Regions from separate parts of the Homo sapiens genome. Here all the other regions are reported to be linked to region 1. Evidence: microRNA targets listed by miRTarBase, many of them from high-throughput screens and not tested one by one. Region 1 holds a microRNA gene; each other region holds the end of a gene's coding sequence.

Region 1 (7,118 bases):
AGTAGAGACGGGTTTTCACCATGTTGGCCAGGCTGGTCTTTAACTCCTGAACTCAGGTGATCCACCCGCCTCGGCCTCCCAGAATGCTAGGATTACAGGCATGAGCCACCGAGCCCGATCATAGCTCACTGCAACCTGGAACTCCTAGGCTTAAGCGATCCTCCCATCTCAGCCTCCCTAGTAGCTGGGACCATAGGCCACACCACGACGCCCAGCTAATTTTTTTATTTTTCGTAGAGATAGAGTCTCAGTGTGTTGCCCAGGGTGGTCTGGAACTCCTGGGCTCAAGCAATCCTCCCACCTCAGCCTCTCAAAGTGCTTGGATTATAGGCGTTAGCCACCGCGCCCAGCCTCGCCCTGCATCTTAATGGCAGATCTAGGCCTAAAACCCCGGACCTTACTCCAAGGCCTGACATATCGCCCTCGTCCTTGCTGCCGCCTTCCTCTCTGGGCTCCCCCACCTCAGAGCCCCTTGTGGGCGCACAGCACGTTGGCCCAGGCGGGGCAGGGCTGGTCTGAGGGGATGTTTTTGACGGAGCGGAGCTCCAGATGCTGCACATTCCTGATCGGGTCAGGCCTGCCCTGCGGCACTCGGGGAATTAGCTTCGGTGAAGAGCCCCAGATCTTCTTTCTAGAGCTGCCCTCTTCCTGGCCAGCCCAAGAAGCGCGGGCGTTCAGGAACGCTCTCCCACCGCCTTGGGTGAGGCTGAAAGGCTGAGTGGATCCCCTGTTGCAGAAGTACTTCTGGTCAAGGAGGGGTTGGAGACGGGCAGGAAATTGCACCCCTTGTATCTTCCAAGGTCTCCAAATCCAGCACGAGGGGCATCTGGGAACAGGGTTTCTGCCAGCCCCACCTTGGGGCCGCATTTGGCGGGAACTGGATCTGCCTTCACCTGCAGCCCTGTGCGGGGCGTGACGGAAAGAGCGGGGAGAGGGGCGTCCTGGTGCGGGGGTTGTTGAGGTGAGAAGCCAGGGGAGGGGGCTCCGGGAGCGCCCTGACCTCGCGGACTGTTGGGAGGCGGAGGGGATGGGGGTTGGGGGAGAAGAGGGGAGCCTGGCAGCCAATGGGAGGGAGGATCTCGTTTCAAAAGGGTTAACCCACAGCCAATGGGAGCCTGGGGGAGCGGATCCTGCTCACTCCATTCAAGAATCCCAAGTATTCAAGATGGACGGCAGGGAGTGTGGAAGGAGAAAGGGGGCGAGGGGGGAAGAGCGAGATCGGCAGAGGAGAGGGTCTCCGCGGCCCACCGGCCTCGCAACCTCGGTCCCGGCCGGCGGGTGGCGGGGCGGCCGCTGGGGATCCAAGCCCGGCCCGGGAGAGGGGCTGGCGGGGTGCGAGAGGGCGTGAGCGAGGGGGAGCGAGGCCAGGGAGGGGAGCCAAGAGGGAGGGAAGGGCAGAGAAAGAGCCCGGGAAGAAGGAGGTGGCAGGCAGAGGATCCTAACGAAGAGCAATGTGTAGGTATCGAGAGCTTCCCGAAGGGTAACGACACCGATTTTCGGTTTTATTCTCTCTTGGGGAAGGGAGGGGGACGGTCTGGGCTCTTTCTCTCGTCTTCCTTTTTCCCTCCTCATTCTCCACTCGTGGGCATCTTTTCTATTTTTTCCTTTGGAAACACTGTAACTGGGAAGCACCAGGCGTGTCTTTCTGAGGTGGCCTCACTGTCATTTTCCAGTGGGGGGCGTGGTGGGGTAGGGATGGGGGGCTCCGCTGGGCACGGCCGAGCTGGGCCATCTGTCTCCACCTGGGTTGTGTGCGAGGGCGTGGAGTGTTCCGAGGGGGACCGGGGGCCGAAGGGCTGGAGCAGGGCAGGGAGTTCTGCACCTCCAGAAGTTGTAGGGTGAGCCAGGGGCGGTGTGGGGGTGTGAGGCTGGTTTTCGAGCTGATAGTTGTGGGGTGTTGAGGGGTGCGGGGATGTGTGTGTGTGGGGGGCGTGCGCTCACACTCCAGTTCTTGTTGTTTGGGTGTGTAATGAGGGCTGAGTTGTGCAGCAAGTATGGCTGAGAGTTTGTGTGTGTGTGTGTGTGTGTGTGTGGTGTGTACGTGCGCCTGTGTGGTCCAGCCTCGAGGTGTGTGTGTTCGGGGGGAGCACAGTTGGGTGTTGAAGGAGAGCGCCCCTCACCCCCCACTTCCCAGCTGCCTCTCTCATCCCATTCACAGAACATGGCTTTCAGGACCCTCCTGGTCTCCTCCTCCCGTCGCCATGGCTGCGAGGAGGGGGTGGGAGGAGACAGTTGGGGCCAGCCCCCTGCCCCTGCTGCTCCAGCTAACCCCCCACCTGCCCTTTCTCTCCCTTTCACAGGCTGGGCCCCATCCCCTGCTGCTCTGGGGGCAGGGGCCGGAAGATGGTGGCCAATGAGGAGGGGGAGAGGAGAGAACTTGAGCCGGGGCCTCCCCTCCCCCATTTCCTCCTCGGTCTCTACACTCGCTTCTGGAAGGAGCTGGGGGCTGGCTCCTGGGCCCAAGGTGGGGGAGGGGTCCTGCTGGCTGGTGAGTCGCTGGGCCTGCTCCTCAGGAATGAGTTGGGTGTGTGAGAGCTGAGGGGCTCTTGGCCCTTTCTCCCTGCACTCCCTAAGGAGAGACCTGGAAACTTCTTGGGGAAGAATCTTCCCCTGGCCTCCCTGAAGCTTGCTGTGCAGCCTTATCTTTGCCCCTCTGCCCCCTGTTGGTGTGATCCAGTTCCCAGCTGGGCCTGGTTTGCCCAACCCCAGAGCAGAGAGGTCACTGACCCTCGAGGGGTCTTGGTTTCCGCCCATTAAAACTGTAGGGCAGGGCCCCATGTTTGCAGATTACGGGAACAAACTCTGCCGGGGAGAGCGGGAGGGAACGTCTCCTGCTTCCTGAGGGGGTGGGACGAGGCTAGAGGGAAGCCCAGAGGAAGAGCTCCCAACTGGAATTCTGTCCTCTATTCCTTACGGTGGCTGTGGATTAGGGAAGAAGGCATCTCCCCTTCGTTGATCGGGGCACTGGAGGAATCACCCTCCAGCCTCTGTTTCTCTGGGCTGCCCAAAGTTCACTGGGTCAGAACTGGAGCTGGGCTCCGGGGCTGTGGCCCTAGCTGGAATGTGCCACAATAGAGCCTGCCTGGGTCTGAGCCTCCAGATATCCAGGTGTCCTTCCAGGGCAGCTTTCTGGCTTTGGGTGTTAATCTTCCGGGGACTGTTTGTCCTGTATTTAAGCCCCCTTAGGGTTGGATAGGATGGGGAAGTGCTAGGATGAGCTTGAAGACTCCCCAACCAAGGGTCCCTGGATAAGACAGGAAATAACTCAGATGTGAATCCCACTGCCAGTGAAAGCCTATCCCTAACTCTCAGTAACTGTGAGCGAATCACCCTCACCATTTTAATGCTGAATCTGCAAAGTGCTTTCAGGACCTCCAAAAGGAGATGCAGGGGTGGGGCTTCACCAGCAGCTTTCACCTCCCCGCCTGGAAGCTTCTCTCTACTGCGTGGGGAGCTGTGACTACAGGCTCCCACCTCTCTGGTCCTGGAAGGTCATCTGAGAGTGTTGCCTTGAGGCCTAGAGCTCTGCTTTATCTAAATTTAAAAGGAGATGGAAACTTAGAGAAGAGTAGAGGGTTCTGTAGTCTTGGGCAGCAAGCTCCTCTCTAGAAGGTAAGCTAGCGGAAATGCAAATCCAGATGAACACAGCCTCATACGAGTGACCTCCAGACTTTGGGGATTGCTAATAGCCGTTTTCTTTGAGGACTGAGCATCAAGCCCGAAGTATCCCTGCAGCTGCTTTAGTGGGTCCTGTCCTCCCATGCCAAAACCTCCAAGAAAAAGGTGGTCTCTGTGCTGGGGGTCAGGGGGTTGGTGAAGAAGGCGGCAAAAGGAAGAGTGGTGAAAAAATAGAATGAACACTAAGAATGGAATAAAAGGGAAAAAAGCTGTATTGAAGCAAAGAAGGGGCAGAGGGAGCCCGTGAGCTGAGTGGGCCAGGGACTGGGAGAAGGAGTGAGGAGGCAGGGCCGGCATGCCTCTGCTGCTGGCCAGAGCTCTTTTCACATTGTGCTACTGTCTGCACCTGTCACTAGCAGTGCAATGTTAAAAGGGCATTGGCCGTGTAGTGCTACCCAGCGCTGGCTGCCTCCTCAGCATTGCAATTCCTCTCCCATCTGGGCACCAGTCAGCTACCCTGGTGGGAATCTGGGTAGCCTCACTTGTTAGTTATACTAATAGCTCTCATTTATGGAACTACTTCTGTATGCAGTGCTTGTGATAGACACTGCCTCCGTTACTGTGAAACCTAATAACTTCTGGGAGGTAACAGCCCCATTTTATGGATGAAAAACTGAGGGTCAGAAAGGTTTAAACAGTTTGGCTAAGATTGTGTAGCTCTTAGGTTGCAAAGCCTAGATACAACCCTGTGTTAAGTCTTGACAGCTCACTCATCTTTTTGTAGACCCATCTGGAGAGATCTGAATAGGTTCTTCAAACTGGGAGATTTCCTGAGCTGAGGGGTGGAAGGTTTTGATGCCATCTGCTGGTTGTATGAGGATATCTTCCAAAGCCTCAAACCTTTAAGGACCAGAAGTGGTGGCAACTCCTTAGGCTAAGAAGGATAAGCATTCCCAGACTCAGCCCGGAATGGAGAGTGAGTGGAAAAAGATTAGGAGAATCACTATTAGGTACAGAGTAGGCCTCCTTGAGAAAAAAAGGAATGCACCAGAAAGGAAAGGGGGTTAACTCGAGAGGATTGCTCCCCAAAGAAAAGGACCTGTGTGCTGCTGGCATCCCATACCTACAGCTCCTTCCCTGGCTCATGAGGCATGGAAAGACCTCACTCCTTCCCTGAATCCACTTACCTTTCTCAGCACCACTCCCTCTTGGTCACGGGGTGTTTGATGGTAATGCTGCTTGAGGGCACACCTGTCTGGGCATCCAAGATTTGGACAGCGTTGCCCATGACTTAATCTTAAAGATTAATAGGATCCCTTGAATCAACCCACAGAATGATTCTCCCAGGACCAATTACAAGGAAATTGAGGCCGGGTGCGGTGGCTCACGCCTGTAATCCCAACACTTTGGGAGGCCGAGGCGGGCGGATCACCTGAGGTCAGGGGTTCAAGACCAGCCTGGCCAACATGGTGAAACCTCGTCTCTACTAAAAATACAAAAATTAGCCAGGCGTGGTAATGCACGCCTGTAGTCTCAGCTACTTGGGTGGCTGAGGCAGGAGACTCTTGAATGAATCTTGGAGGCAGAAGTTGAAGTGAGCCGAGATTGCGCCACTGCACTCCAGCCTGGGCAACAGAGCGAGACTCCATCTCAAAAAAAAAAAAAAAGAAAGAAAAATTTGAGAGCAATGACTCAGCCATTTACTTCTCTGTCTCCCACAGTGCCTAGTAGGCTTAATTAAAACTTGTTAAAATAAATTGAATGAGAGGAATATTTGGGGAGCTTCTTTAAGAAGGCAGCTAGTATTCCTGGTCTTTTGGCTAAGATCAAGTGAAGAAGGCAGCTAGTTTGTGCCTGGTTTTCAACAGCAGAGTTTGGGACTTGAGAAATCTTCCCTAAACTTTGGTGCAAGAAATGGGTCCAAGAGGAATAGGGTTTTGAGGTCCTCTGCTGGACCCTGAGAGGGATCTTGGCATCATGAGGCATGTAGAAACTGAAAGATGGGTCAGACTCCCCTGAGGCCTTAGTTGAGGGATGTTGGACATCTCTCCATGGCTTGCCTTTTTCCCTTGCCCTTTTACTTCTGTGCCTTCCAGTTCTAGTCCTCCTTTCTCCTGCCCAGACAGCCTCTCCATTCTGATCACAACAACAGTATTTGAGATAGTACAGTTAGCTTTATTTCCCTTTTTTTTTTTTTTTTAAGACAGAATCTCACTGTCGCCCAGGCTGGAGTGCAGTGGCGCGATCTCGGCCCACTGCAACCTCTGCCTACCAGGTTCAAGTGATTCTCCTGCCTCAACCTCCTGAGTAGCTGGGATTACAGGCGTGCACCACCATGCCTGGCTAATTTTTGTTGTCCAAGCTGGTCTGAAACTCTTGGCCTCAAGTGATCGCCCACCTCAGCCTCCCAAAGTGCTGGGATTACGGGTGTGAGCCACCGCACCCTACCATATGTTCCTTACTTTCTCCAGTCTATTAAAACTTCTATTTGAGCCTCTTGTCTGGGCACAAATAGCCATTTGATACTGCCACTCCACTCTAAAAAACAATAATTTTCCCATATTTCCCTAATACCATTGGGATTAAATCTAGATTCCCTAAATAGTTTATGGCTCCTGCTTCTCTTTCCTTTCATGTCCTCTCACCCACTTTTTAAGGAGACAAAGTTTTGCTCCAGCCCAGGCTGGAGTGCAGTGGCGTGATCATGGCTCACTGCAACCTCAGCCTCCTGGGCTCAAGTGATCCTCCTGCTCAGCCTCCTGAGTAGTCGAGACTACAGGTGCAGGTATGGCTTTTTTTTTTTTGAGACAAGATCTTGCTATATTGCCCAGGCTAACCTCAAAGTTTGGCCTCAAGCAAGCCTCCAGCCTTGGCTTCCTAAAGTGCTGGAATTAAGGCGTGAGCCACTGCTTTCAGCCCACAAGCAACTTTTATTTCCTTCAATTAACTAAACTTAAGTTACTTGACACATACTCTGTCTGAAATACTTCCATCACTTTTGCCTTTGCCTACCTAACTTCTTATCTTTCAAATGCCATCGTAGTCATCGCTTTTGTGAAGCCTTCCTTGACTCCTTACATCTAAGCTGAGTTCCTTTCCTATGAGCTCCCAAGCTTCCTCCACGTCCCTGCTTAGATCCCTTATTATCATCTTCTACTGGGATTTCCTGGTTATTGCATCTCCTACTGGACAGAAAGCTCCAGGAAGTCAGGTCACAGCTGCCTTATCTTCACCATGTGCTTAACATCTAGTGCTTAACACAATGCCTGGCAAGTAATAGATGCTTTATAAATATTTGGAATATTAATGAATGAATCTGGAAAGAATATTATAGCTTACCAAAAAATGATCTTTATGATGTATATGGTCTCCCCTGTAACTGTTGGGCACCCAACAACAGTAGGGATTTCATACCACTGCCAATAAAATGTCCCTTGGGTCATATGGTGGCATTGATGTTGCGATTTTGAGCTTTTTTTTTTTTTTTTTTTTTTTTTTTT
Region 2 (7,118 bases), not on the chromosome of region 1:
AAGTGAGTCAAGTAGCTTGGGTATTTGTGTCACCATCCAGGATGTAACAAAGCCCCTGGGTCTCTTTGCTGAGTGCTCCGTGGTAGAGGCAGTGCTCTGGGCTCCCCTGCCAGCCCTGCCCTTATGAGCAGGCAAAGCATGGTGGACCAGGGTGTTGATGAGGATGAAACGGCCATGCCTGCTATGTGGCATCAGGAGGAGCTGGGAAAGGGAGACTCACTGCATCTGAGCCTCTCGGGGTTATTTTAAAACCTGTTGGTTGGTGTGGTGAAGGGGACCGCTGCCCTCTGCCCTAAACTTGCCCCTGCATGGCTCTCAGGGACAGAGCTCTTGTTAATACGGTATGTTAACTGTGTCTTCCTTTCACCCCCAAACAGGAACAGATTATCAGTCTGGTCAATCAGATCTGCGGCAAAGTGTCTGGTAAAAACGGCAGCATTGAGAACTGTCTCAGTAAACCCACACCAAAAAGAGGTCCCCGCAAGAGAGCGACAGTGGACGTGCCCCCCTCCCGTCTGTCAGCCTCCAGTTCATCCAAAAGTGCTTCGAGCTCATCATGAAGATGCCAACGCCCGTGGTCGATTTATATATATTTTTTTGTAATTATTATATTCTAGTTTGGAGTACTTGCTGTAGGATTCAAGCTGTCTTTGCACTAGCTCTAAAGAAGATTTTCTTCTGGTTTTAGAGAACTAATTTTGTTTTAGCATTAAACTGTTGAACTTTTTTTTGTACTTAGAAAACCTAGATACTGCAGTCAGATTTTGGAAACTGCCGTATAGTCACTGTTTTAAAAACCCCGGAGGGGCTGTATTAATTTGTATTGCCCCATGGCTGACAAAAGCCTTTTTTTTTGGTTTTGATTTTTTTTTTTTTGTAACTGTTGGGGGGAAAAAGGCTTTTTAACCCATTTTTGAAGAGGGTGAAGTTTGGAGAACAAATTTAAAAACCATCAGTCATGTGAGCAGATTTTTTAGAAGGGATAGGAGACACACGCGCACACACACACACACACGAAACTTGAAATGGCTTTGCTTTGGCTGTCGTCTTCTGCCGTGTGCCAGATGAGCTTGTGATCTGGGAAGCCGGGGCACCCCCGTTTTGTTTCTCTGGGCGGTTGTGGCAGCTGAAGGCGGACGTTGTTTCCTAACCATAGGTGGAACGAGGAGACGGGAGCGAGTGGGCTCTCCACCAGCACATCACTATGCATCTGTTCCAGGAAAGAAGAAAAGCGAGCGAGGAAGACGGAAAAGACTGCCTGCCTTGGAGGGGTCACATGAGGGAGACCTGTGCCTGATTTCATTAGGAAATCCATTCTGTTATTTTTTGGTGCTGTTGGCTACTTTATCAAAAAACCCTTCAATAGCATCCTTAAGATTTAAAAAAAAAAAAAAAAAAAAGGAAAAAAAAGTGATGGAAGCCGTAAGTGCTTCTTTGTCATCGACGTGCAATCTTTCTAACATTCCATCTCCATCTCACCGCTTCTTGTTTGACACCTTCACAAGTCAGCATTAATCTTTCTTTTAAAACTTGTTTCATTTATGATCATGTAGAGAGCCACTAGGAGGCCTGCAGTTATTTTTGAATGTGAAAATGCATTTGCGTTCATCTTGTCTATTTTTTCTCTTCATGTTGTAACAAAAAGGAAAAAAGAAAAAAAAATCCCATCCCTTTTGTACATATGCCTGTAAATTGTTTTAAATACTTGAGCCTTTTTCTCGGTGGGGGGTGGGGAGGGGGGTGAGAAGACAAGATGAAGAAAAGCCTTACATTTCAGTTTCTTCATCGGTTGGATTGGATGCTTACAGGGTTTTTCTTGTAACATTTATAAGTGCTGCTTACATCACTGAACAACAACAAAAAAATAATAATGGAGTAGCTGTTGCCCTTCTCCGGTTGTGTGTACAGTATGTGTGGAATAAAAAAGGGAAACTGTTTTCACAAGCTGTTCTTTGTTTCATAATTGGATTCATCAATCCCGTAGCTACCCATATTGCACTGAGCTTGCCAGTGGTGACTGCCAGGAACGTCCTATGATCCACTTTGTTGGTTGTTGTTGCAGAAGACTGAACTGTTTTGGAATATTTAACAATTACAGAAACAGTCAAGTGTTTTCCAATGTGGTTGTCCGGTTTCTATGGCCTTGCTGTGTACTTTCCCTCTTTTTGACAGTAAACTTCTGCCTATGGCTTACAGTTTGACATTTAATTTATTAGCGCTGCTCTGCACCCCTCCCTTGGGAGGGAGACTTCATGTGGTTTATTGCGAGTTTTTTGTTTACTTTTCAGGTTTGTACTACAAGGTTTAATAATAAAAACAAAGTTTTTTGGACATTTGTCTGTCTTGTGGAAGATGACTGAATGGAATGAGCTCTTTCTTTTCTCGTCCACGGGCAGGGGGCAGAGGATTCCCCCCAGCCAGGGAGCAGAGCCACCCCCCACACTGCAGTCCTGCTCCCACCTGCCACTGGGTCCCCTTCAGCCTAACCTAATGGTTTCCATGTGGCCTGCGGCCGTCCCCCTCATTTCCCATCGAGCTGCGCCCCCCTGCTGAGCTTGCTTTCATGATGAGACGACACTGGGTGCATTCAGGGTGGTATGGCTGCAGACAGACAGACCCCCTCATCCCGGCGGGGAGTCTGTCCCCTCTCTCTCATTGGGCTGGAGGAGTGATGGCAGGAACACATCTCCAGGGGACCAGTTTCTTTTCATAAAGAATGGAGGATTGCTTTGGGCTTGTTTCTGTTCTTTTGGGCCCAGGAGTGTGAAAAAGTAGGGGTTGGACTGGCTGGCTACTGGACTAATGATACTTACTTACTTCTGTAATGATCAACGGAAAACCCCAAGCTTTGCCAGAGTGGTTTGGCTACAGTCAGCTCTTCTACAGGAAGTGGCATTTTCCACTTGTGAAACGGTAGGTCATTCCCTGCCTCATGCAGAACTCAGCCCTGTGGAGCCTCCACCACCTGGCCCAGGCCCTGCCCACATGCAACCTCCCGGGGTGGCCCTCAATGACCTGCACGTCCCTTCACTCTAAGGAACCCTGAGTTACAGTGGCCTTAAGGACATGTGTATTTAGAAGCCTTTGTGTACAAACTAGCTCTGTGCGCTCTCAGTTTACCGTCCTCACACTTTATTGTTAGCTGTTCTTTAAGTTTCTCACACATTATTGGCAATTATGTAAAAATCAAGAACCTCTATAAAACAACCTGGCTTTCCAGGTGGAATTCCGCATACAGCCAAAACTGGATTCCAGTGTGGCCAGACAACGCCCATGTCCCAATTTAAGAGTCGCTGTCCTCACCACCATCCGGAGTGGCCTCTCTGTCAGTGTGTGATGTGGCCAGGGCAGTGTCCACCTGAACTTCCTCCTCATCGGACTGAACAACGGGGGACTCCCCACCCTCACTGATGTCCCGGGTGGCCGAGTCGGTGCAGGTGGAGGAAGAAGAAGGTGGCTTGGCTCTTAATTCTGAGGGATTTGGAACCTGGAGGGTAATCTCATTCTGACAGGTACTGGATTCAGGCCCTGCAAAATAACGTAGGGAAGAAAAAGCCCTGTCATAAAAATATTGTGAATCAGAATTGCCGCCAACAGCTGTGGAATGTGCCCGTCATGAAAGGGGGGTGTGGTTTTTGTTCCAGGCACCTGGGGCCTGCAGAACTTGGGAACTGCCCTGGAAGACACTGAGCTGAGCGATGCCAGAGGCAGCCTCAGGCCCTGCGGTGACCCTTCTGTCCCCTAAGGAGTCAGCCACATGTGACACAGATCAAGTGCTCCTAAGGCTGTAATACGCGTGTAATAGAGGCCCAAAGGCAAGTGCTGCCTATCTTTGAGGAGCAGTCCTTGTAACCTTGATAATCTAGATTTCTTTTTTTTTTTTTTACCCTTTGCAGTAATTCAGAGACACCACTGCTGAGAAAGTCGGAATTACTGACCTTCAGCAGTTCTCCAATTTTATGGAACTAAATAGGCTCTTCAAGGAATCAAAATTCTATATGCAGGTGTCACTGTTTCTAAATCTTCCCCTGACTCTGGGTGAGGGTTCACGCTGGTCTCCAGTATTCTGGCCTTCTCAGGATGAGGGCAAATGCACCCAAGCTCCTTCTCTTCCCCAGGATGACACCGTTCTGACAGATTGCCAGGAGAAGCGGGTGAGAAGTTTAGAGGAAGCTGAAACCGTGGTAATGGTAGAACCTTCTACAGATGGCTGAGGTGCTGCTGGGACGACTGAGCTTTGCCTTGACCCAGCCCAAAGAACTGGTCTGAAATTTGAAACGCACCAAGCCCAGGTACAGGTCTGGCACCTCAGCCCATATTTGCTGCATGAATGTGAAACAAAATTTTGTGAAGGGATGAAAGGAACTGAAGTGCAACTAAGTTTACAACACAGGCCAAGAGCTGAACACACACCATGGCTTTGCCCATGGCAGGCACGCCCCTAAATGCCTGTCGCACGAAGAGGGAAGAGTTTCCCGTGAGCCCCGCAGGAGAGTCCGCACCTCCCTGCAAACGCCAGTCCTTAACCACAAGGAGCAGACTCAAATGGATTTCTGGGTGGTAAAGGAGGGAAAACAAACAAGAAAGCTCTCAACTCACCAAAGTTACCGGAGTGGAGCATGTCAAATCTTTGAGAAGAATTCATGACGGAACCACACCACTGTTGCAGCTGCCACACAGCCGTGTGGAACCGTGGGGTTAGGGAGCCAGGAGCTGGCTGTGAGCTTGGGGGTTTATGCGTAAGTGACTGGCAGATGGTTCTCACGTCTCACCTTTGGAGGGGAGTGGCATCGATACTGCCCTGGTTCAGCTAATGCAAGTTTGTCAACCCTACCTAAGGCGGGGGACAGCACAGTGTTCTCTTCTCCTCCAGAGTTCAGGAAGACGTCCAGGGCCTCCTGGTCCGATATGTCCATCAGGTCCATCTGCTCCAGCATGTCCACGTTCACTTCCATGGATGACATGCTGCCTATGGGCTCTGCGGATAGATCAACACGAGAAAGGACACGCTGTCTTTAATATTACTTTAAAAGGTGAACTTCCATTGGCATTAGGCTAACTACATTGCATTTCCTAAGCTTCCTTCAAAATGGAATTTGAAGCAACGTATTAGTAGATGACATATGCCAGTCTGGCACTTTAAATGCATCCTAAATCACCCTTGGCAACTATTATTACCTTTTACACTTCCTTAATCTGTTCATCCCCAGCCCTTTGGGACGCTGAAGACTAATCTCTGCATTAAGTGAGTCCCGGCTGTTTTGAGTAGGACGCTCAGCCTGTCTCAAAGAGGCCAACATTCCTGCAGCAACAGTTAGCGACCTTCCTCCCTGCCAGCCACAGCTCTGCTTCCTGCCTACAGGTGCCCTGAACCTTCCCGGCAGGCGCACTCCTCTAATTGCAAGTGGAGTTTCCACTGGCCTTGGAACATTTCTCGGGCCTAACGGCAGAAGGGGTTTGACCTACATCTGTAAGCTGTAAGAGCTCCCTGCAGTGGAAGCACAGACTAGGAGAAAACAAAACCCAGCCCACCAGCAGACGGCGACCCCATGAAACAGCACATGCCTAGTTGGCCTCTGCCCGGGCACTGAGCACGGGATGCCCCACAGGTCTTTACTCATAGGCAAACGACCTCTATGGTCCAGAAAACCACAAGCCACGTAAGTTATCCTAGCCATGGGGAATGCCTGGCAGAAGCAAATGCAAATTATTTCTGGAAGGACTCTCCCTTAACCTTGGTTTAAACAAAGTCAATCCCAACCCAATCTGGCATTTGTAACACACATGAAATGAGCCACTCCGAGTGAAGGGCAGCAGAAACAAACATCATCCTCGCTGAAGAATATGAGATGGCTGTTCATACACCACAGTCACAGGAAAGGTGAAGTCAAAAACAAGGTGTCAAAAATAAGGACAGACATTTGAAAGCCAAATAATGACTAGGTAGAAGAGACTGAAATCTCAAACTCGGGGCACAGTCACAGCCCAATAGAAAATTAATAAACTAGAAGGCAGGATGAGTAAATCTGCCATAATGCAGCATAGAAGAACAAAGAAAGGAAATACAAGAGAGCATAAAAGGTACGAAAGATGCAGAAGCGTAGCATCTGGTCACATTTCCCCGAAGCCAAGAAGGGGAGATAACTCTATTCAAAGAAGCTGATGAGTTTCCCAAATCGATGAAAGACCTCAGGACCCAGATTTAAAAAGCAAAACATTCCAAGCAAGATCAAAGCAATCTTCACCTACACCAATTGCTTTGAAGTTGAAGAACATCAAAAGACAAAGGCTCTCTAAAAGGCAGCCAGAGAGAGAGGGCAGGCTAAGAAAGAGAAGGAAATAATTAGGATGACAGGCAACTCATGAACAACAATAATAAAAGCCAGAAGACTGCGGAGTAAGTTCAAAGAGGAGAGAGAAATGTCATCTCTAAAATGGTGTAACATTAGGTATCGTTTAAGATCCAGGAGAAAAGCAGAGACCAAGAAGAAACACGTCATTATGAGCCTGCTCTCGCTAGAGGCATAGTGAAGGAAGGGCTGAGTGCAAGAAAGCATGTTAAGCAAAGAGACGTGTGAGTGTGTGAGTTAATGTAAAACCTGGAATGGAACAGTCATAACGAGGAGTCACCAAGGCCAAATTACCCTCCTGAACAAAGACACGGGGGTGGAGAGGAGGGTGCTTAGAGCCACAGCGACGTGAGATTGCGGCTTCATCTGGGAGGAAAGTGAGTCTCATTATCCTCAGGCTCAGAAAATCACTAAAGTTCAGCACTTGAATGAGAGGTAAGAGTAATTCCTATTTTTAGTTGGGGAAAAGTATTATGGTTTAGATGATCCCATGCTTGGCGGCATCACCCTCGCCAACTGAGCCAGCCTGCTCTGCCTCGGACTTGGCCGGGGGTTGAGCCCAGCCGCACAGGGACAGCAGTTCGCTGGGCTGGATCTTCAAGGCTGAGTGGTCAGGGGAATTTGAAGGCACGCTGGTCAGGCTTGTTCTTTTTGGGGGCACGCTTCTGAGGGTTTCCTTTCTGACCTACGGAAGCCTTTCGCCAAGGCCTGTCTTTTAGATCGTGGCTTCTGACTTCAGTTTTGAAAGTTTGTCTGTGCCATCTTCTT
Region 3 (7,118 bases), not on the chromosome of region 1:
TCACAAGGAAAGGTCACTTATTAAATAAAATGGCATGATTTCTGGAATACACTAATGCTCCTTATCTTAATTGACTTTGGGAATGAGCCTTTACATGAGTTTTTTACCTCCCTGGATCATTTTGAAAAGGTGTAAAATGCTTCCAGAAACGATTTTGTAGAACTAAACAGATTTCATATGTTGGAGAAAAGCCTGACAAGAGGAGGATTGGGTTTTACCAGATTTTTCTATTATAAGAAACTTGCATGATTTAAATATTTTCAGTATGTCCTTTGAGGAAAAAAGCAAACACAGTGCTACCCAAATCATTACTAAATGTCTCTCATTTGGTTTCTCATGTTTCTCTCTCTTTTTCTTTTCTTTGCAGTATTGACTTGAAGCTGAAAGAAAAGCCTTAGTTGGCCATGCTGGAAGAAGAGGATGCTTTTCTGGTTCATGGTTCTGTTGAAACATATCTACCTGAAAGAGACAGGGCTGATGTTACCTTTTTCCACTTTGCACTACCTGGTGCCATTCTAAATTTCTAAGGGGAAAAATAGAAAGTTTGTTTACTCTTAAGATATTTTATGAAATTGTGTGTACTTTCCTATTTTGCCAATTATGTGCCTCAAAGATTTTAGTTGAGCCTTAGCAAGAAAGTAGGACCTTCCATTTCAATACTTCATTAACACGGTGTAGTGATACTTTGTCCCTTAGACTGGTGTTTACCAGTAAGATACCTTTAATCCACTGTTAAGTATGAGTGGATTTGTTTCCATAGATTAGCTGGATTTCCTTTTGGTGATTGCATTAGGTTTAAAGTACACAGGTCTCAACTCTCCCCAGGAAAGTTTCCCCTGTTTGACTCCACCTTTAAAATCCTAAGCCTGACTAGGACAGCCACAAACCACACAAGGTGTAAAACCATCATCAGCTAAGTGCCCGTTTTGTTCTTGTTTACCAGAATCTCCTTTAACTTCTCAAAGGGAAGCCGGGCTTTCTAATCCACGTCAACTTTATTTTAGTTGTCAAATTGGGCATTATATTTTATGTAAATTGGTCTTTTAACATCATTTTCCTGATGAATGTTGGTGACCACCACATTGTGAAATTTAAGAATCCGTGTTGCATGTTTGGTAGCTCTCTGAGTTTCAGGCCATAAACTCAGCTCCAGAGGTTACCTTTTAAGTGCCAAGAACTCAAGTGCAAGGTGGCCTACTCAAAAATCATTTGGTAGCATTCAGTTATTCATGAATTCCTCTCTCGCATGCATTATAAAAAGTGATCTGCTTTAAAACACCGTAATCTGATCATAGGCTTAAAATTAAATATGAGTATTACTTTCATGTACAAAATATTTCCTTTATAGTCTTCATATGCCCTTTAAAATGCCAACAAGATTTCAAGTCTGTAGGCCTCTAGTGAGGTGGGGTGGCAAACCACAGCTAAGTCTCGCTCACCACTGCAAGCTAAGAATGGTTTTTACATTTTGGGTTGGAAAAATTTTTTTTGAATATTTCATGACACATGAAAATTATTCAAATGTTAGTGCCGATAAATAAAGTGGTACTGAAACACAGCCACACAAACTTGTTTTTGTACTGTCTACAGCTACTTTCACACTACAGCCGCAGAGCTGAGCAGTTCAGCAGACCGTATGTCCCACAATGCCTAAAACATTGACTATGTTTACAGAAAAAGTTTGCTGACCCCTGCTCTAGCAAACGCATCCTTTCCTACTCCACCCCAATTTGTATTTAGATAGTTTCTCTAACAGAACGGACAAATGAGGCTGCAAACTAATTTATTTTTGTCAAAAATCAATGTTTTGACATCCACAGACAGTGAAATAAAAGAAATGGCTTGCTGAAAAACATGAGGAGTCCTAGCCACAAAATCACTGCTTAGGTTGCAATTGCCAAAATGAAGCCTTCTTAGAAGCACTTCTTTAGTATATACAGGTGTTGGCTGAAGTCCGTGCCTCACTCTGGGAACCATTCTTAGTCTCCAGTGTCTCCTATTACAAAGAAGCTGGCAGAAATAAAAATGAAGGGGTGAGAGCGGTTCCACCCTAGTCTCATGGTGGAAAATTCATTGGGGAGAGCTGTCCAGGATATTTGGAGTCCTGGGTAGAAGGAGCTTGTAACTACTTTAAAGTCGACATCTTTGCACAGGTGATTGAGTTTCTCTGACCTCATTGCTTCACCTCTGTCTCCTCCCGTCCTTCCGCACGTGCCCACACACACGCAGTTCAGCCCTCTTTCCTCCATAAGCCTCCATCGTTTTCTCTTTTCTCCTCTTGATCCTTTCAAGCGAGTATCTTGTTGAATTGTATGTTCTGTTGGATCTCCTCCTTCATAACATCTGGCTTGTTGGACAGAAAAACCCTACAGCCCACCCCCTCCCACAGCCCACCTCCACTTTTGAAAGCCCAAATTACACCTCTCCCAGAACACAGTGTTGACGTAAATACAGTTACCCAATATTCCTGTTTGTTCACCTATTTGCTACTTTCACTCAGTAGCATCCCATTTTGTAAAATGAATTCCATGGTCACCCTGTCACAGGAAGTAATGAAAAATCCAGTGTTCAGTGTAGTGGTGCAAACCTGAGGGCATAGAGCTGTTCATAGAGGGCTCTTGTTATAGCCAAACAGACACAGCAACAATCTCACCATTTATATATATATTTTTAACTTGTCCAGCTCATCTATGGAAAACTACTCAGGTGGTATGCTGTTTGAAGCCTCATCTTCCTACATGAAAATTATGGGCATTTGTCCCAATGATTTTGTTTCAGCTGTTCTGTAGGCTGCATAACCACTCTGATATTTAGGTATCTGCTATTTTATTATCTTAAAAGACAAATTAATTTAATTGCATGTGCTAGGGAAAAGCTACCATGTACATTCACCCCAAGTAAATAGAATCCTAGATGAATCCTAGAAAAATAATCCCTAAGCAGATAGGTAGACAGAGGTAAACATTCACATGATTTAGCTCTCTAGCTCTTGCACTCTGAACATTCTTGCTTTGGTTCTGACTTCTGGGAACTGCTTTGCATTTCTCCTATAGATCTGTAGTTAAGGGAACCAAGGGGTCATTGGGGCAAAAGCATTGTTTCTCAAAGCTCCTTGATTAAGAGAAAGAACAGAAATTTGCACAGAAGATAGTGTCAAGGAGTGAGAAAGTTTGTTTGAGGGCAGTAGCTCAGTGTGGAAGAAAATCCTGAAGTTTCTGTTGAAGCCATACAATGTTCTATGGGGTTACTCTCTAAGACATTCTCTGAGGTGTGTGAGGAAGTCACTACTCCTAGCCTTTGTTAAGATGTAATTTTAAATATTCAGTTATGGTACTATGTTTGCAACTCTCGTCTTATCACAATGCCTCAGTAGTTTGTTCCCTTAGAAACATTTAGATGTGCACAAATTAATCTTTTATATATCTAAAGGTTTTTCTATCATGCATTGGATTGCTCAGAATAAAGTGTCTGTTAGACTTCGTTTTGGTAAATAAATTCTCCATAATGTAGATTAATAATATAAAAGTCTTTAATGACACAATATATCTATATAGCCTCACTGTATAATTCAGAAATAAAAATTGATTCTGCATGTGATGGTTTTCTTTCTTTGAGTCAGCAAGAATTTTTCTCTGGCTTCACTTTGCAGCAGTTTTATCTCAACATCAATCTAGCTTGGCACTTGGTACTGGAGGACTGTATACATTTTGGTTTTTCTGTACACCCAAACTTTATTCTCTCTTCATTTTTGCCTTTCCTATCTCAGAGTTCAATACACCGAGCTTTCAAACTGTTGTTTACTCTGTGGATAAGCGATTTCTTACTTTGGAAACATCTCCATGTTTCATGGTTACTTGATTTTTGTCTTTTCCTCTCTCTTCCCCTTGCCTTTTTATGGCATATATTTATTTTTAAATTAAAATGTTTAAATATCATTTTATTTTTAGTTGGGGTTTTTTCCCCATTTTCACAACCTTCAGGCAAAACCAGAGTTGAGAATTACCACTGTGCTATTTTTTTAACTTAATAAACACATGTGTACCTCTGAGAAAGTTGTTGGACTAGCCAAAGGAGAAATTGCTCTACAAGAAGTGAGACGTTGCATGTTCTCATGATCTAAAAATGAGTTCTGGTAGATATTGTCCTCTACCCAAGAAAGGGAAGAAACAGAAGAAAAGGCTGACAAGTAATTGCAGGCAAAGGAAGGACATTCAACTACAAGACGTACTGCTACATTCATTCTGCTCTCGTACCTAACTATGGTGGTGGAAACTGGAGGTGGGCTAGGTGTCCAGCACTAGGGAAAGGGCTGGGTAAATCGTGCTGAATACACCTTTTAGTATACCACAGCTGTGAGAAGCAACATACTATATGTTCATAAAGCAACACTTAAATCATAGGGTAGAGCGGAAAAAGAACAAACTCGATGTTTATAGCACAGTGCCACTTACATAACTGTTAAACATACACACACAAAACTACGTATTATCCAAAATCCATGTGTATTTAAGGACTTAACACACTCATTTGGGTAAGGGTAGGGCATGGAGATCAGTGATAAAGTTGGGAGCCTAATTAAAAATCAAAATCATAAGGGGCCTTTTATAAGCTGAAGTTAAAAATAAATAAAATGAAGACAACTTCAGTCGTGGAAGCCAAGACTTTCAGTCATAGATTACAGAAAAGCTGTGTTGGGGCACTGTGGATCCCTGAGGAGCCATTCCCTTCTACAGCTTCTCTTGTGTGTGCAGTGTCCCTGTGCTGGCTGTGTCCATGTGCTGCAGCGTGCCAGAAGCCCGCCCTGGGTTGCATCATCCTGTGCAGTCATGGAACTTTTAATTCAGAGCTGGTGCCTTTTGACACATCAATCCTCACACAGCTGTGGGCTTTACGGAGCAAGCAGATTGCCTCACGAGCCTGATTTTCCTAGATAGTTTCATTCACATCCATTCAAAATAACCCTCTTTAACTAGACAAAATTATTTCTTCTCAAGATATAACCATTCCAATGATACTTAGACATTAGACACCAATAACTGCTACCCATGATCTCTCTAGCCTTACCTCTAGTGAGAGACCTATAGCCCTTAACACTGGATCACGCTTTCCTTGTGAAACTTCCTCCTTAGACCAGTGAGCTGAATTACCCTGCTTTCCCACAGTATTCAATATCTATTGCTGTATTAACAAATTACAGTTGACTCTCATTTTTCACAGTAGTTATGTCCTATAAAGTCAACAAGAACACTGAGTTAGTGAACACTGATCCATTGCTCCTCGGGCAACCGGTCAATACATAAGTTTGTTCTATGTGTTTTTCAGTTTAAAGATATTGTATTTAATGTATATTGTTCACTTGATAACACTGAATTCACAGCCAACAGCCTGAACATAACTCACGCCTGAATGAAGCTTCTGCAACAGGTATTTTCTCCATAAGGCACATCACAGCCTCCTTGCATTAGGAATACCAAATAGCCCCCACTAGCTTGGGGGCCATTTTAAACAGTAAAATCAACAAAAAGCGCAACAATGCAAAAAACAAAAACACAAATACAGGAAACTACATGGACTGTGAAGAGGATACTTGTTGCTGAGAGCTGAAACAAGAAGACAGAGCCTTACCTTGTGCGACTTCAGCAGGGAGCATGTATCTCAGGCAATTCAAATTTTTCACTGCTCTGCAGATGCCGTAAATGACTGTGAAAGTGCTGGAGTACTGATTTTAGGGATACAAATAAATTTTAGCGAGTAAGCAAATTTGCAAGTGCAAAATCTGTGAATAATGAAGATCTACTGTATTCCAAAACTTACGGGCTTAAAACCACACATTTATGATCTCAGTTTCTGTGGGTCAGAAATCCAGACACACCTTAGCTGGGCCCTCCGCTTCAGGGCCTCTCACAGGTGCAATCAAGGAGTTGGTCCAGGGTTTCTAACAAGACACAATCAAAGTTCATCTGGGACAGAATCTGCTTCCAAGCTCACCCTCATGATCATCAGCAGGATTCAGTTTCTCTGTGATTGCTGGACCAAGCACCTCATTCCTTGCCGGCTGTTAGCTAAAGGCTGCTCTCAGTTCTTTGCCTCATGGGTCCCTCCAGCACAGCAGCTTTTTTTTATTGAAACCAATGAGAAAGACTGCTAGGAACTTACAATATTTTGCAATCTATCACAGAATTGACATCCTCTCACTGTTGCTCTATTCTGTGGGTTAGAAGTAAGTCACAGGCACAGTGGCTCATTCTTCTAATCTCAGCAATTTGGGAGGCTGAGGCAAGTGGATAGCTTGAGCTCAGGAGCTTGAAACCAGCCTGGGAAACATGGCAAGACCCTGTCTCCACAAAAAATATAAAAATTAGCCAGGTGAGATGGCACTTGCCTGTGGTCCCAGCTACTCAGGAGGCTGAGGTAGGAGAATCTCTTGAGCCTGGGAGGTCAAGGCTGCAGTGAGCCATGATTGCCCCACTGCACTCCAGCCTGGGTGACAGAGCAAGACCCTATCTCCAAAAAGTAAAAATTCAAAAAAAAAAAAAAAAATTAAAAGAAGTCAGTCACTAGATCTAGCCACACTCAAAAGGAGAGTAGGACACAGGGTGTAACTATCAGGAGATAGGGATGATTGAAGGCTGCCTGGAAACTGTGCCCACCATACCCCTGGTGCCTTCTGCAAGTTCCTCTTTGAGCTCCTCTGTTTTCTCAAGGTGTTTCTCAATGTTCAGACGGAGGCTTTTCTGCTATTTCTCCATGACTTCAACTAGCACAACTCAGATTATTCAAAGCCTGGTTTCAATCTCAGACTACAAACTCCCACCATCATTTCTCTGTGCCCCCTCCAATCCCTGAGGAGGGGGTTAGTAAATTCTCACTTCCCCGAGCTGATGAGACAATTTCTGTACTACCTCATTGTCTTTGAAATCACACAAACTGGGATTCAGCCTACTGGAAAGGGTCACCTCCTTCCCATTAATCCCAGCAGAAGACCCAGGGCTGCATGTCACTGGACCGGCTTAGTTGCCTGTCTATGAGCCAACCACTGTAACTGAAGGGGTGGATTATGCAGGCTTAGTTGGGCCTGGGTCGTATGTTTACCCTTGGAGAGAGAGAAGGGAATCAGC
Region 4 (7,118 bases), not on the chromosome of region 1:
TTCGCTATGTTGCCCAGGCTGGTCTCGAACTCCTTGAGCTTGAGCGATCTGCTTGCCTTGACCTCCCAAAGTGCTGGGATTACAGGCGTGAGCCACCATGCCCAATTAAAGTTTTTGTAATTTTCAGCTTTTATTTTAGATCAAGGAGGTACTTGTGCAGGTTTGCTACATGGGTATATTTCGTGATGCTGAGGTTTGGAGTATGAATGATCCCATTCCAGGTAGTGAGCATAGTACCCAGTAGGTCCCCATCTCTCTCTCAACCCCCCTTCTAGTAGTGCCTAGTGTCTGTTGTTGTTCCCCACTATATCCATGTTGTACCCAGTGTTTAGCTCCCAAATTCACTTGTAAGTGAGAACTTGCGATATTTGGTTTTCTGTTTCTGCATTAATTCGTCTAGGGTAATGGCCCCCAGCTACATACGTGTTGTCACAAAGAACATAATTTTGTTCTTTTCTATGGCTGTGGGCAAACTTAAACACAACAAAACTAGATATGTGATATGAGGTTCATAACTGATTTTTATCTAGAAACTATATTTACTTTTGTGTTCTTGTCTTTGTAGGTTTTAAAATCAAAGATGGGAAAATCGGAGAAAATTGCCCTTCCCCATGGCCAGCTTGTTCATGGTATACACTTGTATGAGCAACCAAAGATAAACAGACAGAAAAGCAAATATAACTTGCCACTAACCAAGATCACCTCTGCAAAAAGAAATGAAAACAACTTTTGGCAGGATTCTGTTTCATCTGACAGAATTCAGAAGCAGGAAAAAAAGCCTTTTAAAAATACCGAGAACATTAAAAATTCGCATTTGAAGAAATCAGCATTTCTAACTGAAGTGAGCCAAAAGGAAAATTATGCTGGGGCAAAGTTTAGTGATCCACCTTCTCCTAGTGTTCTTCCAAAGCCTCCTAGTCACTGGATGGGAAGCACTGTTGAAAATTCCAACCAAAACAGGGAGCTGATGGCAGTACACTTAAAAACGCTCCTCAAAGTTCAAACTTAGATTTCAGATTTCAGTATGTGTGTAAAACATAATTTTTCCCATATCCCTGGACTCTTGAGAAAATTGGTACAGAAATGGAAATTTGCCTTGTTGCAACATACAATTGCAAAAGATGAGTTTAAAAAATTACATACAAACAGCTTGTATTATATTTTATATTTTGTAAATACTGTATACCATGTATTATGTGTATATTGTTCATACTTGAGAGGTATATTATAGTTTTGTTATGAAAGTATGTATTTTGCCCTGCCCACATTGCAGGTGTTTTGTATATATACAATGGATAAATTTTAAGTGTGTGCTAAGGCACATGGAAGACCGATTTTATTTGCACAAGGTACTGAGATTTTTTTCAAGAAACAGCTGTCAAATCTCAAGGTGAAGATCTAAATGTGAACAGTTTACTAATGCACTACTGAAGTTTAAATCTGTGGCACAATCAATGTAAGCATGGGGTTTGTTTCTCTAAATTGATTTGTAATCTGAAATTACTGAACAACTCCTATTCCCATTTTTGCTAAACTCAATTTCTGGTTTTGGTATATATCCATTCCAGCTTAATGCCTCTAATTTTAATGCCAACAAAATTGGTTGTAATCAAATTTTAAAATAATAATAATTTGGCCCCCCCTTTTAAAATAGTCTTGACTCTTTGTGTGTGACTGTTTCTCATGTTTGAATGTGTGACTAGGAGATGATTTTGTGTGGTTGGATTTTTTTGACTTCTACTTTACTGGCTGAGTGTGAGCCGCCATGCCTGGCCATAATCTACATTTTCTTACCAGGAGCAGCATTGAGGTTTTTGAGCATAGTACTTGACTACTCTAGAGGCTGAGACGGGAGCATCTCTTGAGCCTGAGAAGTGGAGATTGCAATTGAGCTAGGATCAGGCCACTGCACTCCAGCCTGGGTAACAGACGCTGTCTCAAAAAAAAGGCCAAGAGAAAGTAAGGGAGACAGATTTTGAGTGGGAATGTTAAGCAATCAGGTCAAGTAAAGAAGATCGAATATACAAAGGAACTTCTGTTTGATGTTTTGTGTGAGTCACCATTCCTTCCTTACAAATGCAGATACACCTTCCTCACAAATGGAAGGGAAGCTCATTTAGAAGTTTAGTTTGAAGATGCCCCCAATTTTTAGTCACCAATTTTAGCTTTTGTTAGTAATGTGTTGTAAATATTAATACTAATGACTGACTACAGTGAGTTCTGACATCTCTCCCAAATCAGTTTGTGATTCTAGAAAGGGACACATTAACAGGTTTTAACAACACATTTTTGCACATGGTTATAAAAATTCCTACACAATGTAATATAAGTCCTACCGCCTCAACCACCCTTCTTTCCTTGTCCAACATTTCTCAGCTCTTGTCATTTTGAGCAGTATGTCTGCAGTTTAATGTGTGAGGGCTTATGTGTAACGTATGTTCAGGAAATAGAAGGATAAATGGCAGAGCTGAAAGTTTAGGTGGGATGGGGAGAAAAGACAAATATAACTAAAATACAAGCTATATTCCCCACTCTACAACAACAAATGCCTGAAGAGAGAAAAAGGTAAAGTCTCTTAGGGTGAAGGGACTAATTTTGGTGAGAAAATTTTCTCTTTGGGAATCTGACACCTTAGAAAGTAACAGTGAGTTGAGCTGGGCATGGTGGCTCACGCCTGTAATCCCAGCACCTACGGAGGCTGAGGCGGATGGATCACGAGGTCAGGAGTTCAAGACTATCCTGGCCAAGATGGTAAAACCTTGTCTCTACTAAAAATAGAAAAAAATTAGTCGGGCTTGGTGGCAGGCACCTGTAATCCCAGCTACTCAGGAGGCTGAGGCAGAAAATTGCTTGAACTCGGGAGGCGGAGGTTACAGTAAGTCGAGATCGCGCCACTGCATTCCAGCCTGGGTGACAGAGCAGGACTCCATCTCAAAAAAATGAAAAAAAAAATTGAGTTGAGCCTTAAAAGATAAGTATTTGACACACAAAAAAGGAAAAAAATTGTGAGGTAAAAGTTTGAGCAGATGGTGGTGTAAAAAGATGCACAACGCTGAATCCCAGCACTTTGGGAGGCTGAGGCTGGTGGATCACCTGAGGTCAGGAGTTCGAAACCAGCCTGCCCAACATGGCGAAACCCTGTCTCTACTAAAAATACAAAAAATTAGCTGGGTGTGATGGTGGGTGCCTGTAATTCCAGCTACTTGGGAGGCTGAGGCAGGTGAATCGCTTGAACCCAGGAAGCGGAGGTTGCATTGAGCCAAGATTGTACCACTGCACTCCAGCCTGAGCGATGAGTGATACTGCATGTCAAAAAAAAAAAAAAAAAAAAAAAAAAAAAAAAATGTACAATGTCCAGTAGCTTAAGAGAAATGCAAGAAAGGAAGGGAAGTTTTTAAAAGGTATATTGGGGTAAGAACACGAAGGGCCTTCAGTGTCACGCGGAAGAGCTTCAACTTTATTTTGTAAGCATGGCAGTTCTCAAAGGTTTATGAGTAAGGGAATGGAATTCTTGCTTCAAAAAGAAAACGTAGAAATATGGAGGACAGCTTGATAAGGGAAAGCTTGAAACAGATTACTTAGGTGAGGATATTTCAGTAGCTCAAAAGAGAAAAGGGCCTAGAGGGCATTATCAGAGGTATGGGCTTATTTGGGGGAATGTTTTAGAGCTAGAATTGAGGATTGAGCATCTGAATAGAGGGTAAGGAAAAGACTTGAAATTGAGCAACTTGAAGGATAAATCTACCAATTAGGGGATTGCAGGGGGATCAGAATTATAAAGGAAGGTCATTTTGATTTGGCATGTTGAACTTTGGGGTGCCTCTAGGACATCCATGTGGAAAGGCACAGCAAGTAGATAGAAAATAGGTCAGATCCAGAGGTATGGCTTTGGTAAATAGTGCACAAAGCAGTAATTACAACAGGGAAATGAGAGTGGAATATTTTATCTCTATCCTTTTCTTTTTGTCTCATAAGATTTAATGCTTTTAGGCCAGGCACGGTGGCTCATGCCTGTAATCCCAGCACTTTGGGAGGCCTAGGGGGGCAGATCACTTGAGTCCAGGAGTTCGAGACCAGCCTGGGTGACATAGGGAACCCCGTCTTTACTAAAAATGCAAAAATTAGCCGGGTGTGGTGGCACATGCCTGTGTTCCGAGCTACTTGGGAGGCCGAGGCAGGAGGACCGCTTGAGCCCGGGAGGCAGAGGTTGCAGTGAGCCGAGATAATGCCACTGCACTCCAGCCTGGGCAACGGAGTGAGACTCCCTGTCTAAAAATAATAATAATAATAATGCTTTACCAGTAGTCTTGACCTCATCCTCTCTGCCTCCTATGGACTGTCAACTTCACTGTGATAGTAGTTGAATTATAATTTCCTCATGAAACTTATATAGAGGTTGTTTTTTTTTCCGTACCTGTAAAAGTCTGTGTTAGCAGACAGTTCTAATTTAAATTCTGAATTCTGATAGCAGGGGCCCAGTTGGTGCAAAGGAGGAATAAAGTTTCCTTCCCTTTTCTACAATTTGAAATTGGGTGAAACTGATCTTTTGTAACTCTTTATCTCTTCTTGCAGCTCTCTCATCTCCTAATAACCCTCCTCATCTTATTGCTGGATAAACTATCCTTTGTTTTCGTGGGTGGAAGGCAATTTATATGCAATCAATATCTGCTTCAGGTTGAAGGAATCAAGTATATGTATCCTTGGGTATGAAAGGCTGATAGTCCCATCATACTCCTATATTTAAATTTTTGAAGGACATTGCTAAACTAAATACATTTTAAAATCACAGAATTGCCTTGCTGAGTCTGATCCCTGAGCTAACTCCTCCAAGTTGTTTTCTCATTGTTGTACTTCTTTCCTTCTGAATCTAGAAATCTCCCGGAAACTGTTGCATAAGTTTTCAAATGGGGAAAGAAAGTATGCCTGTGTTGTGAGATGAGATGGTGTAGGAGACAGAATTGTGTAAACACAAATAATGTAATTCAGGAACTACTTGTTTTGTTAACTTGAATTATAAAAATACCAAATTCAATAACAATTTAAGATGTATAAAAGGTGTTGCATTTAGTGAGGGTCCACTGTTGAGATTTTAGAATTCATTTTCTAGAGCAGGGTTTATAATAATGTGGGCTTAGTGTAGAACTGGCTACACAAATTTTAAATTCCCTCATTAAAGGAATAGCTTATCATAGATTATGTGGCATTAATCATAGTTTCTGAATTTAGTAATGGTAAAAAGGGACAAAGTGGGACAATTGATAGAAGCAACCTACAAAATTTATGAAAGTCAGATACACATTTATCAAAGGAGGCTACATGTTCTATTCAAGCTGCATTTAATTAGAAGAGGTCAGATAATCTTGAACATTTAACAATACTTTAAAAGACAAAATGACATTAAACAATGATAAAAATACCTCATTTCTCTAGTTATTCACACAATATTTTTATGAATGTGGAAGAAAAGATTCAGGAAAGTTAAGTAATTTTTCTTAGTCTAATACAATTAGCATTCAGAAAAATATGTGTTATGTCTGGTTGTAAAGACACTAGATGATAATCACACTCCTCCAAAGCTGGTTATATATACATGGCTGCTCCTACTAAATTATTACAGATAGTTCTCTTATTCCAAGATTAGAGTTTGTTAATCTGACATTGTCAAATGCAAATTACAAATGTGTTCTTGGCATCTTGGCATTTTAGGATCTTGGGCAAGGGATGGCAAGTAGAAATGTTTTCTTTTTTTGGAGACAGAGTCTCACTCTGTCATCCAAGCTGGAGTGCAGTGGTGCAATCTTGGCTCACTGCAACCTCCACCTCCTGGGTTCAAGTGATTCTGCCTCAGCTTCCCAAGTAGCTGGGACTACAGGTGCACGCCGCCCTGTTTGGCTAACTTTGATAGTTTTAGTAAACACAGGGTTTCGCCATGTTGGCCAGGCTGGTCTCGAACTCCTGGCCTCAAGTGATCTGCCTGTCTCAGCCTCCCAAGGTGCTGGGATTACAGGCATAAGCCACCCCACTGGGCCTTTTCTATTTGAGACAGGGTTTTGCTCTGTCATGCAGGTTGGAGTGCAATGAGTGGTGCGATCACAGTTCATTGCAACCTCTGCCTCCTGGTTTCAAGTGATGTTCCCACCTCAGCCTCCTGAGTAGTTGGGACTACAGGGACGTGGACATGTGGTTTCACTGTGTTGTCCAGGCTGGTCTCAAACTCCTGAGCTCAAGTGATCCACTGGCCTCGGCCTCGCAAAGTGTTGGTATTACAGGAGTGAGCCACCAAGCCCAGCCGAAAACGTTTTCCCTTTTTGTTTTCAGGGTTTTTAAGTGATTTCTTCCTTTTTGTAGCCATTTTGATGATTTTTGGTTATTTCCAATTGCAAATGTTTGATTTAAATTGAACTCACAATTGCCTACTAACAGTAAGATTTTTAAATACAAGATCTTTATTATTTCACTTTACTTGACAACATGGAATCAGAGGGCTTTTTGGTCCCATCAAACCTTTGGATAAGTTACAATTTGAGGGGATTTTCTAACTATAAAACAAGGGCTTTCAACAATCCCTTCCAAAGTTGAGCAAAATTAACCTTACTCTTCAAATGACTAGGCATTTAATGCTCTCAAATTTTAGAAAGGATTACTATCAAAGACTGGAAATGTCCCTTTTCTACCAGACTTTCAAGGCTCTTAGAGTCACTGTTCATTCAGTCCAGTCTCCTTAACCATCCAGGTCTATTTCTTAAGTTCCTGTAATCATGTGATGCCTGAGACCAGATCCTGAATTTCAAAAATAAGAAAACAGAATTGTTTATGAAAGGTATTCAACCAAGGTTTTCTGGCTGTACTTTAGCTAATTAGAATACCTCATGTATGAATATTCCAGGTTTTTTTTGAAATACTTTGTTAAATTCAAAATACTTGGGGGATAGATGGAAATATATGTGGCAAAGCAGGTGTAATTAACTGCTAACTGTAGAATCTAGGTAGTGGGTATATGGATGTTCCACTTTAAAATTCAGCTACATTTAACATTTTTTTATACTGAAGATTTTTATAATAAAGTGTTAAAGAAAATAGAGTTAGGGAAAATTAAGGCTGCTTTACTGGTTCACTCC

Evidence for each region. Region 1 holds the annotated microRNA hsa-miR-130a-3p (CAGUGCAAUGUUAAAAGGGCAU, at 4,035-4,056, shown strand). A microRNA usually pairs through its seed, bases 2 to 8, with sites in the 3' UTR of a target mRNA and lowers its output. Matches are read on the target gene's strand: a 7mer-m8 pairs with bases 2 to 8, a 7mer-A1 pairs with bases 2 to 7 and ends in A, and an 8mer does both.
Region 2: miRTarBase lists JARID2 as a target of hsa-miR-130a-3p. Seed matches in the 3' UTR shown: 8mer at 651-658 and 7mer-m8 at 1,994-2,000.
Region 3: miRTarBase lists PRUNE2 as a target of hsa-miR-130a-3p. Seed matches in the 3' UTR shown: 8mer at 496-503 and 7mer-m8 at 2,990-2,996.
Region 4: the mRNA of PNRC1 is a reported target of hsa-miR-130a-3p. Seed matches in the 3' UTR shown: 7mer-A1 at 1,421-1,427.

The regions. Positions count from the first base shown.
Region 1 is chr11:57,637,218-57,644,335 of GRCh38, forward strand. MIR130A (microRNA 130a) reads left to right here and starts at 3,981; the gene lies at 3,981-4,069. MIR130AHG (MIR130A host gene) reads left to right here and starts at 1,159. Exons shown (of 2, transcript NR_186232.1): 1 at 1,159-1,455. RefSeq lists silencers at 1,083-1,272, 1,293-1,352 and enhancers at 2,199-2,778, 6,053-6,552.
Region 2 is chr6:15,519,692-15,526,809 of GRCh38, forward strand. JARID2 (jumonji and AT-rich interaction domain containing 2) reads left to right here. Exons shown (of 18, transcript NM_004973.4): 18 at 378-2,351. The coding sequence ends at 560. It overlaps DTNBP1 (dystrobrevin binding protein 1), which reads right to left. Exons shown (of 10, transcript NM_032122.5): 9 at 4,835-4,978; 10 at 3,116-3,528. The coding sequence ends at 3,284. LOC105374947 (a long non-coding RNA gene) reads left to right here and starts at 6,643. Exons shown (of 4, transcript XR_007059475.1): 1 at 6,643-7,118. RefSeq lists a silencer at 3,343-3,529.
Region 3 is chr9:76,607,850-76,614,967 of GRCh38, reverse strand. It overlaps PRUNE2 (prune homolog 2 with BCH domain), which reads left to right. Exons shown (of 19, transcript NM_015225.3): 19 at 368-3,592. The coding sequence ends at 398. LOC105376095 (a long non-coding RNA gene) reads right to left here. Exons shown (of 12, transcript XR_007061586.1): 4 at 5,815-5,935; 5 at 5,626-5,719. Among named protein-coding and RNA genes, the nearest start is that of GCNT1, 150 kb to the right of the region's middle.
Region 4 is chr6:89,083,188-89,090,305 of GRCh38, forward strand. It overlaps PNRC1 (proline rich nuclear receptor coactivator 1), which reads left to right. Exons shown (of 2, transcript NM_006813.3): 2 at 566-1,973. The coding sequence ends at 1,009. Among named protein-coding and RNA genes, the nearest start is that of PNRC1, 6.0 kb to the left of the region's middle. RefSeq lists enhancers at 1,320-1,847, 1,848-2,374.